Linked DNA regions of Homo sapiens: all the other regions are linked to region 3. Evidence: fine-mapped expression QTL. A gene starts in region 3. Each other region holds a variant in brackets. All regions are shown on one strand. Distances are from middle to middle.

The links.
Region 1: its variant is fine-mapped to the expression of TREML4 in spleen (GTEx, PIP 0.98).
Region 2: its variant is fine-mapped to the expression of TREML4 in whole blood (INTERVAL, PIP above 0.99).
Region 4: its variant is fine-mapped to the expression of TREML4 in whole blood (INTERVAL, PIP above 0.99).

What each region holds. Positions count from the first base shown.
Region 1 is chr6:41,331,448-41,334,133 of GRCh38, forward strand. No RefSeq gene overlaps it. Among named protein-coding and RNA genes, the nearest start is that of NCR2, 2.8 kb to the right of the region's middle. The variant G/A (reference allele first, on the strand shown) is at 1,041.
Region 2 is chr6:41,313,879-41,316,564 of GRCh38, forward strand. No RefSeq gene overlaps it. Among named protein-coding and RNA genes, the nearest start is that of NCR2, 20 kb to the right of the region's middle. The variant G/GT (reference allele first, on the strand shown) is at 1,328.
Region 3 is chr6:41,227,107-41,229,792 of GRCh38, forward strand. It overlaps TREML4 (triggering receptor expressed on myeloid cells like 4), which reads left to right and starts at 1,243. Exons shown (of 6, transcript NM_198153.3): 1 at 1,243-1,384; 2 at 1,608-1,938; 3 at 2,415-2,465. The coding sequence starts at 1,322.
Region 4 is chr6:41,202,276-41,204,961 of GRCh38, forward strand. No RefSeq gene overlaps it. Among named protein-coding and RNA genes, the nearest start is that of TREML2, 2.5 kb to the left of the region's middle. The variant G/C (reference allele first, on the strand shown) is at 1,279.

The DNA of each region.
Region 1 (2,686 bases), 100 kb after region 3:
GCAATGCATTCCCTGCAGAGTGATCTCCAGTAGGCTTCGGAGAGAGTAAGGGCTGGGGCCCTGTCAAGATGCTGCACAGGGAGAATTCCCCCAGGAGCTGTCCACAGGAGCCCCTGAGAAGGTGGAGGCTGAAGGGAGGAGTCAGCTAAGGGCAGATGTGCAGATACGTGTTTGAGCTGGGCAGCCTGAACTTGGCAGAACAGAGCGGGGACAGAGGGGAGCCGGAGCTGGCCGTGGTGGTGACTGAGTGATTTAGGGAAATTAAAGCAAGAGGGGAGATCATGGAGGAGGAAGATTCTCAGGTTGGGCAAAGAGGCTGAACTGGGTTTGGTCTCCCCTGTTTGGGGCGTTGGATCAGATGCACAGGGAGTGTTCCAGAGGGGCTGGGGACAGCAATGTGGGAGGGTCCCACCACAGCAGGGATTTAGGTACTGGTAGGTGTCTTCTGCAGGCACTGGATGGCCCCTTCCTTACTCATTATCTCAGCTGTCCCAGAGTGGCAAGAGCTGAGCATCGCCCCTCGGCCTGTGCTGAGCTGAAGCCTTCAGAGACCTCCATAGCTGCTGCCCCCAGGGTGTTCGTGAAGTGTGTGCACCGCCTGGCCCTGCTCCTCTCCAGGACTGCCCTTCTCCAGCTCTGTCACCCCCTAACTTGGGGCTGGTTTCTATGGAGCAGAGTGGTCTGCTGAAGGAGGGAGTGCTGAAGGAGGGAGTGAGTGTCTGTGTGAGTGTGGGTGCACTTGGGTGAGGGCCTGAGAGTTTAAAGGCAAGGATCTTGATTGGCCTGTAATAAGCAAATGAGCAAACAGAGATGACGGCCAAAGGATATTGAAATCGATGTTAAACATAATTTTCTAACCCTACCCCTGATTTTTGTCTCATCTTCTGAGGCTGACCACCTTTACCAGCACAGCTGTCCCCACTGTGCTCCATTTCGCTCCTCCTCTCTGGCCCCAGGCCAAACCCAGCCATACTCCCCCTGCTCCAGCCTGCAGCTCGGGAGCACATGAAGGGCTGACAGCACCAGGCAGCACAGAGACC[G/A]GGGCCCTGGGGGCGGCTGAACGGGGTGAGGGGGTTGGAGGATGGGGTTGGTTCCATGGAGTAAGGAAGGAGAAGAAGCAGGGAGAACCCAGCTGGGGAGATGGCTGCTTCCTGCACTCCCTGAGCCCAGGCCTCCCGCAGGGTGCTTAGGGTGGAAGCCTGGTTCTGTGCCTGACCCACCCTGAACTTCCTGTGAGGGAGCTGTGCGCCCAGACTGCAGCCTTGTGTGGGCAGTAGCTCAGGTCCCTCTGACCTCTCTGGCAGGGAAAAAGCTGCTCTGAGACCAGATGCTTTGAACCTGGCATCCTGGGACCAGGAAGGGCCATTGTTATGGGACCATTGTCATGGGAGCAGGAATAACCCTGTCAGGGCAATTGATGACTGAAGGATCCTGCTGGAGCTGGGGCAGAGAGCCATTGGGGTCAGAGGTATAAGCAGACTTGTTGGGGTTCAGGGAGAAGACTCCTTGGATCTGCAAAAGGCAAGCCTGGATGAAGAGTAAGGAAGTGCCCATGGAGAATCTCTGAGCCCAGGAGGAGCACCAGGTCAGGAGAGAGGAGGCCTGGGTGCTAGTCCTGGTTTGGCCCTGAAATAGCTGAGTGACTGTGGAAAGGCTACTTGCCTTCTCTGGACCTCATCTCCCTCAGTTGTGAAATCAGCACTGAGAGAAATTCCCTTTTGTCCCTGCTACTTCTGGTTCTATCATGGGGGAAATTTACAGCTACCCCTTCACCCCTGCCCAGCCTAGCTTAGCCCTGTGCTGCGTTTTGGGGATCACCTCCAGACCTCTACGGCTCCCTGCTTTCCCCATTTCTGCATCAGAGGCCAGCCCTCCCTTCCCATGGACCTACCCAGGCTCGGAGCCACTGTTGCAGGCTAGACTGGGCCTTGCTAGAAAAGCAAGTACATGAAGTCTCCAGCTCTCCCAGCTCCTTCTCTGGGTTCCTGTGAGTGTGTGTGACAATGAGTTTGGGAGAGGAGGTTGCTGAGGTTCCCAAGTTCTCTGAGGGACCTTCTCAGAGGGTGGGCAGGGAACCCAGAATCCCCCAGAACCCCAGGCTCTTTGACAGGACTTTGCTGTGCCCTGCTCTGATCGTGCCAAGGGGGAGGCACTATCCCTAGCTCTTCAAGAGACTTCTGAAAGGGCCCCAGATCCCACCACAGCTACCTGCCCCAGTCCCTCCTGCAGAAATTCAACTTGTGACAAGGGCTGTTGTGGGTCCCCAGGGAGCAGGGCCAGTCCCAGCCTGGATGAGGGGCTGCCTAAGCCCAGGCTTCCCTGCCCCCAGGTCCCAGATGCCAGAGGAAGCTGAGCGTGCAGATGGTTCCAGCAGGGGCCTCCCCCTAGGGTGCTCAAGGCCCCAAGTCTATGTGGAGGGTGCCCACCCCACTCACACAGGTGGGGAAGCCACAACACAGAGAGAGGGGCAGATTCCCCGCTTTGAGAGCTCCTGTCCCCTGGGGAGAGACGACACACTCTGACACAGCAGAGAACGATACAGAGCTGGCTGCAGGCTGAAGAGACACACAGCTAGTGGCACATAGCAAGGGGTGCTCTTGTAAGCTACAAGAAGGAGCTGTCACTTAGAGTCAGCAGGGGTCAGAGAAGGGGAAAGTCAGCATGGGAACACAGTTGCTGACACACA
Region 2 (2,686 bases), 87 kb after region 3:
GTTGGCAGCCAGATCTTCTTCCTCCAGACAAGAGATGGGGTGAGTCTTCCCTGGGGATCCTGAGCAGCCCAAGAGAGAAGGCTGAATGATATTGACAAGGCACTTCCTCAAGCAAATGGCCAAGGAGTCACCCTCCTGTGAAACTCCCAGGGCACCAGCCCCACTGTGGGCTCACAGCATCCAATTATCTTTAGAATTTTGTTACCCAGGCCTGAGAAAAAGCTCTCAAGTGAAAGAGAAGAAAGAAACTAAACAGAGAATAGTGAAGGCAACTGGGAAGAAACAGAGACCACCTAAGGAACCATAAATAAAAACAGAAAACTTTTTCTCCAAGGGCTGTTTCCAAAACAGAGGGAGGCAGAGAGAGAATGAGAACAACAGAGAAATGGGAGAGAAAAAAAAAGAAAAAGACAACTGATCCAGGAGGTGAATGCTTGAATAAAAGGAGTTCTAGAAAGACAGAACATAGAAAACAGAGAGGGGAAAATCATGCATGAACTAATTCAAGAAATTTTCCTGTGAATTTCTAGATCGAAAAGGCCACTCACTGTGCGGAGCAAAGGGATGGAAATAGACACACTCCAAGGCTCATCCCTGTGACATTCCAGGACACCGAGAACAAAAAGAAAACGCTGATAAAGTGAAGACAACAGATCACATATTGCCATAGTTATCATAATTGCTCCTGACTTTTCAACAACAATAGGAGCAAGAAGGTAACATAGCAATGCCTTCAAAATCCTGAGGACAAATTGTTTCCAACTCAGAATTTTTTATATCAGTCAAACTGTCATGGTAAAACAGGCATTTTTAAATATAAAAGTTGTCAAAATGTATTTTCCATTCCCCCTTTCTCCCGTAGTTACTCAAGGATGGGTTCCACCAGTACAAAGGAGTAAACAAAGATCCAAGAATCAAGAAAACGTTGTAGAGGAGACAAAGAGAAGCCCCAGAAACATGAGGAAGAGACAGCTGTGTACCAACTGGTGGAGGCAGTGCATCCATACAGGGCAAAAAAAGGCTGCAGGCATGACTTTTTAGGAAGATGCTCAACAAAATACTTGCTGAGAAAAAAAAAAACAAAACTTAGAAATGCTGGTTCCAAAACATGTGCTTTTGTTTGTTTGTTTTTTCTTGTTCTGACTTTTAATTCATTACACCACTGCTCTCCAAGAAAAGGCTATCAATTATTCCCTTCCAACAATGCATAAGAATGACTTTTTCCCTACTTCTCCAGGACAGAATATAATTATCATTTATTTTAATCTTTTTTGAACTGTTAAAAAGATAAACTGAGGCACAGTAAAATTTTAAAGAGTTTTGGTGA[G/GT]TTTTTTTTAGCATGAACAATTTATGAACTGAGCAGCTCCGAACCAGAAATAGTTTGGGAGCTCCACTGAGGAACACAAAGAGGAGACTTTTATAAGACAGACACAGAAGTAAAGCAAAGTATTTAATTGGTTACTGTTATACAATTGCTTTTTTTGGTCTCTCAACTTGGAAAGCCCCTCGTTATCTAAGTTTGTATAAATAGTAACTTCTGATTGGTTGAGCTTAAGTTCTGCTTTTAAAAATATATATATAGATATAGATATATATAGGCATTCACAAGAAATAGCTCAAGTTAAGTTTGGTTATGTTTGCAAATCAAGCAAGGTTTAGGTCACTTACAAATCATAACTTCTTTTGTCCCCTCTGGGATTCTTCAGGTCTGGTCTCCATTTTAATTTACTTTAACAATCCCACCGCGTTGGGTCACCCTCTCAGCAAGCTAAGAAGAAGGTGGTAGCATTCCTCTCAGTTACCACTAGTGAAATAGTCACTGGAACAAAGAGTCATGTAATCTTATCCTCAACAGTTGTATTGGGATATAAGATTACATGGCATCATTACCTGCATCATGGGCTTCAGTGGTAGGGTTGTTGAGTTCTTCAAGTCAATTAATGATGATGGCAATCATTTGATGTGTGAGTGCCTTCTGGAAAGCTTTGAAATCCTTGAGAGGATAAGATATAGTAGGATGGTAAACAAAATGACTACAGAGAGAATAATAGCCAAGGATTTTTAAATTCCCTGGAGCACAGATTCCCAGGAGCCAATATTTCACCAATAAAATAAATCAGTGGAGGAGGCAACACCTGTCTGATAAAAGACATATTTGTTCCTTAAGATCCTTTAAATTGGGCTCAACAATTTCTAATTTATTAATATAGAAACAATATTTTTTTTTACAAATAAGAGCCTCCTTGTTAAGTTGCTAAGGTATCAAGGACTTCTATTTTGGAGTACTATTGAGGTTAAATTGTTTATTTCAGATAGTATTGCTTGAAGGGAATTCAAGGTAGCATTCTATAAAAACAAAAGAAAAAAAAAAGGTTAACATTAGGAACAAATTATGATCTTAGTCTTTAAGTCCAGAGAGCAGCCTGTCAAGATTTCTAAATTTGAGTTTGAAGCATTTTTAGATGATGGAATGAGGATGGCAATTGCAACCTGATGGATTTTCCTGGCTTGCAGTTTGAATGTCTCTGGAAATATCATCAGGTGTTCCAGTGAATTCTCCAAGTGACCCACACAGCAGCAGCATGAAAATTTTCCATACATGGTCTGTTGTAGTAATTTTTCTGAATTTAAAGTCATCCAATTTCAGCTGGCAGGGCTTCGGAAAAAAGCAGTTTTAGTTTCTAGT
Region 3 (2,686 bases):
ATACCTATAAGAATTGTTTGCAATCTCTCTCAGTCCCTTCAGGCTGCTATGAGAAGATGCCTTAGACTGGAGACTTTCTAAATAATAGAAATCTCTTTCTCAAAGTTCTGGAGTCTGGGAAGTCAAAGATCAAGGTGTCAGTGGATGTGGTATCTGCTGAGGGCTGCTCTCTGCTTCCAAGGTGGTGCTTTCTTGCAGTAACCTCAGTTGACTGAAGGCATGAACACTGTCCTCATATGGCAGACAGCGCAAATCTGCTTCCTGCAATCTCTGGTATAAGGGCATTAATTGCATTCTTGAGGATGACGCCCTCATGACTTAAGATTTTCCCACAAGATCCCACCTCTTAACGCTATCACATGGAAATTAAGTTTGAATATATGAGATGGGGGAACAACATTCTGAACACAGCAGAATCCTTATGCATGGGATATTTGTCTATTCCCCCCCCCAGTTCTTTATTCAGTCATTTACTTACATCAGCATGGACTCCTAGAGATTTAATATATACATTGGGTAGTAATCCAGTACCACTTGGTTTTGTTGCTAGATAGTTCTCACTTCGGCCATTTTCTTTTTCTGTACATTTTACACACGCGTTGTTCTTTCATCCACTGATGTATTCATCCAACAAGCACTGATTGAGATGATCCCAAGCTACCATAACTGATCCACTCCTACCTGCCTTCCCCTCCAACTTTCCCTGACCAGCACTCTCTTTCCTCCCTGCTTTCCTGGCCCCACCATTTCCAGGGAACATCTTGTAATTCCTGGGATTAAAATCTGCCCTCTACAAAATGTCTCAGGGTCAAAACTCATCATCAACCCACCATGGCTAGACCAGAAGGATTCAGGGGTCTGGTCGTGCCTCCAAGGGCCCTGACCACCTATAGGAAGTGCACAGAGAGAAGGAAAGAGGGATGACCCCAGCTTTATTCACCAGCTTTATTCTTGGCCATGCTGAGAGCTGCCCCTAGCAATAGAGGAGCAGTATGACTGGCTGGAAGGCATAAAGCAGCAGACATGGGGAGAAGTTCAGTGAAAGGCGGCAGAGCAACACAGCAGGGCTGAGGTGCCCAGGCCCAGAGACAGACCCTGTAGCTGGTGGCCCCTTTCAAGGCCTGGCTGCCCCTCCTCCCCTGGTCTGCAGAGCCCGCCCTCCCAGGCCGACCATTTCCCCAGCAAGACATTGACTTCCTCAATTTTACCAGCTGAGAGACACTGGGAACCTGGGGCAGAATCAGACCCAGCGTCTGACTCCTCCTGAGAGGGCTCCCTTTTTTCTCCTCTCCTCCGCTGTCAGAAACAGATCTGGGCTGGAATGGCCTGGGGTGGGGTCCACACCTGCTGCTTCCACCTGTGCTGCTGCTGCTCCTGGCCTCAGGTGACATGGAGGGAAAGAGTGCAGGGGGTGTAAGGAGTGGGATGAAGAATGAGTGGGGCAGGGAGCAGCATGGCTGTGTGACCATAGGACAGAATTTAGGGGCCCTCTTCCATGTGTGGGCATCAGAACTAGTTCCCCCTCCCCTTCCCCAGCCTGTGATGGGGGAGGTTGGGTCCCTTCAGAGCTCTGACCTGGGTTTCTTTCTGCCGGTTCCTGGGTAAAGGGTGCTGTGCCTGAAGAACTTCACAAACACCCAGGACAGACCCTCCTCCTGCAATGCCAGTACTCACCCAAGAGAGGGCCCTATCAGCCCAAATCCTGGTGTCAGCAGACATCTCCAAGTCGGTGTACCTTACTTGTCACCAGCTCCAAGCCCTGGACAGCAGTTCAGAAGTCTCATTACACAATCTGGGACAAGCCCAATGCTGGCTTCTTCAACATCACCATGATTCAGCTGACACAGAATGACTCGGGATTCTACTGGTGTGGAATCTACAACGCTTCCGAAAACATCATCACTGTTCTTAGAAATATCAGCCTGGTGGTGTCTCCAGGTGAGCTCTTTTCTTGAGGAAATACCTCTGTGCCACCCCCCAGGGACCTGAAGGAAATGTCATGCACCCCCTCCCATGCCTCTATCATCCCCCATCCTGCCAGGTATTCTGCTGTGGTCCAAGGGGAGCAAAGATCCTGTCCCCAAACATGGACTCTCACCTCTCCTCCACCCGGTACATCCTGGCCTCAATTGTTGGGAAGGTACCCTCAGAGGTCCCTGGACAGAGACACAGTCTGTCTGTCACTCTGCGTCTCTCTTTGTCTTACACAGGCACACCCACAACTCTTCTTTTCACACACACACTAACACACACACACCAACAACTCTGTCATGCAGATCTTAGGCACAGACCACTCCTGGCTTAAGACATCCTGAGGGTCTGGCTCTGGGCCCCTACCTCCTCTTATGTATGGGGTAGACCCTACTCTCTTCTGGGCCCCTGGAGAGTCATTGTCTGCTGTCTTTTCTCTTTAGCCCCAACCACGTCTCCTATGTGGACTCTTCCCTGGCTCCCAACAAGCACAGGTAGGTTGGAGGCCTCGGTGGGGGAAGATTAGAAGGGTCACCAGGCAGCTTGGGAGCCTCAGATTCAGGGAAGGGGAAACCAGGGAGGCCTGCCTCTGAGGACTGATCTCTTGGGGCCTGGGCTTGTGGGAAGCTACCTTCAGGGCCCACTGTCTCTTAGGGAGAGAAACATGCACTATCTGATGTGATCAGAAGATCGCCATGTTCTCACGATGATGGGA
Region 4 (2,686 bases), 25 kb before region 3:
TCCTTAGATGGGACTGTCAAAAGGTAAACTGAGGCACAATAAAATTTTAAACAGATTATTTCAGCAAACAACAATTCATGAATCAGGCAGCTCCAAACAGAAGAGGTTGAGGAGCTCCACTGGGGGAATGCAAGGGGAAGACTCCTACAGGACAAGTAAACTGAAGAAAATATTTAATTAGTTATAGTTATATAGTTCCCTTATTTGGCCTATCCTGTTGGAAAGACCCTAGTTAATTATATAAGTTTCTTTTGATTGGTTGAGCTTAAGTTCTATTTTTCCTTAATATACACATTTACAAGAAATAGCTCGTGTTAAGTTTCACTGATATTTGCAAATCAAGCAAAGTTGAGGTCACTTATGAGGCCTAACTGTTTTTTTAATTTTTGCTCAGGGACTCTTCAGGCCTGGTCTCCATTTTCATTAATTTTAACAGGACTCAGAGCAAAAAGTCCTCAAGCTTGCATGGCCACAATCTTAAATTGACCTTGAAGCCCCAAGCTCCAAGCAAAGAAGTCTATCTCGGCTGACCCTAAGCTTTTGTAGTCTCTCAACTCATTCACTCACTCATTAATTCATTCATTCATTTGTTCATTCCCACAACCTCATTGCTATGCATGGGGCTAGGTAGGCACTGGGGGCGTAGGAATGAGACACGATTGTCACTTGAGACCTCTCAGCTCACAGACGTGTTTTGTTTTCCTTATTCACCCTTCCTTTTTCAATGTTTCTCACCCAGTCCTCAGAACTTCCTGAGCTCCCTGAGTTCAGGGGCCATCTCCCCTCCCCAGCACACACAGTAAGTTCCTCCATCCCTTCCCCCATCAGAACAGTAAGTTGCTTCAGGAGTGGGGGATTTATCTCTTGTGGGGACTTTATGCGCTTGGAATCCATGATTCTATGAAACTGATACAGTGCGCCCAGCACTGAGCCAATCATCGTCTAAAGTGTGACCCTTGGGATCACTGTGCTGATGAGGGTAGAAAGAATCAAACATTCATTCGCTGATCGAGGAAGTATGCACTGGATTCAATCTTTCTTAAGAGAAATTTGGAAGCATTGGTCAAAATCATTAAAAATACGTATACATTAGACTTTTACATCTATCATTTGATTTAATACAGCAGTGTATTTTGTCTTTATATTTATTTTTCCCATTTAAAAATTAAGGCCTAATTTACATACAGTACTATTCACCCTTTTCAGTGACGAGTTCTGGGAGTTCTAGAGACTTGTATCCAATGCCGTAATGGAGACAGAGAAGAGTGCCATCATCCC[G/C]AAAAGCTTTCCTCTGCTCCTTGTTAGTCATCCCTTCAGTCCCAGACAAACACTGATCTGGTGGGGTTTTTTCCTGTCATTTCTCTCTTTCCAGAATGGAAAAGTGAAGCACTTTATGTTGATTTATTCTGGTGAAGTCCAATATATAATTTTTATGAATCAATTTTTATGTCATATCTAATAAATCTTTGCTTAACCCAAGGTCACAATGACTTTTTTCAACAATTCTGTGAGCTATAATTCACATAATATAAAACTGACCCATCTAAAGCATACAATTCAGTGGTTTTCAATATATTCACTGAGTTGTACAACTAACACCAATTTTGCAGGATTTCCCCACCCAAAGAAACCCCATGCCCGTTAGCAGGCACTCCCTGGATCCGTTTACTGCAGACTTGGTGGCTTAAAACAGTATTAAGTTATTGTCTCGCCATTCTGAAGGCAGAAGTCTGAAGTCAGTTCACACTGTATTGAGATGAAGATGTCGACAGGGCTGCAGTCTCTCCAGAGACACTAGGGAAAAATTTGTTCCTTGCCTTTCCAGCTTCAGGTAGCTGCCAGCATTCTTTGGTTTGGGGCTGTTTTACTCCAATCTTCAAGGCCAGCATCTTCAGTCTCCCTCTGCTCCATCTTCCCATCACTTTCTCCTCTTTGTGTTCAAATCCCACTCTGACTCTCTTACATAAGGATACATGTGATTGCATTTAGTTCCCATCTACGTAATCCAGGATAATCTCACCATCTCAAGATGTTTAACTCACTCATATCAGCAAAGATCATTTTTTTTTTGTTTTTTGCCATATAAGGGTAACAATCACAGGTTCCAGGGATTAGGACACAGATATCTTTTAAGAGACCATTTATCAGCTTACCACAGTCCCCATTCCTACAGTCCCAGGCAACCACTAATATTTTTGTCTTTCTAGACAAAAATATCTTCAATCAAAAATGCCTTTATCAATTCTGGATATGTCATAAAAACATAATTGAACAATATGTGTTCCTTGTGACTGGATTCTTTCATTTGGCATGTTTTCCAGGTTTGTCCATGTTGTAGCTGTACTTGTGCTATACGTTGTATTAATACATCATTCCTTTTAAAGGCTGAATAATATTCCACTGAATGGATATATATGTTTACCATTTATCAGTTGACAAATATTTTATTTGTTTCCACTGTTCAACTATTATAAGCAGTGTTACTATGACTATTCATGTACAAGTTTTTGTGTGGACATACGTTTTCATTTCTCTTGAGTACATAACCAATAGTAGAACTACTGGGTCATATGGCAACTCTATGTTTAACATTTTCAGGAACTACCAATAGTTTTCCAAAGTGGCTGCAAATTTTACACCCTCTCCAGCAATGTATGAGTTCTCATTTCTCTACAATCTCTCCAAT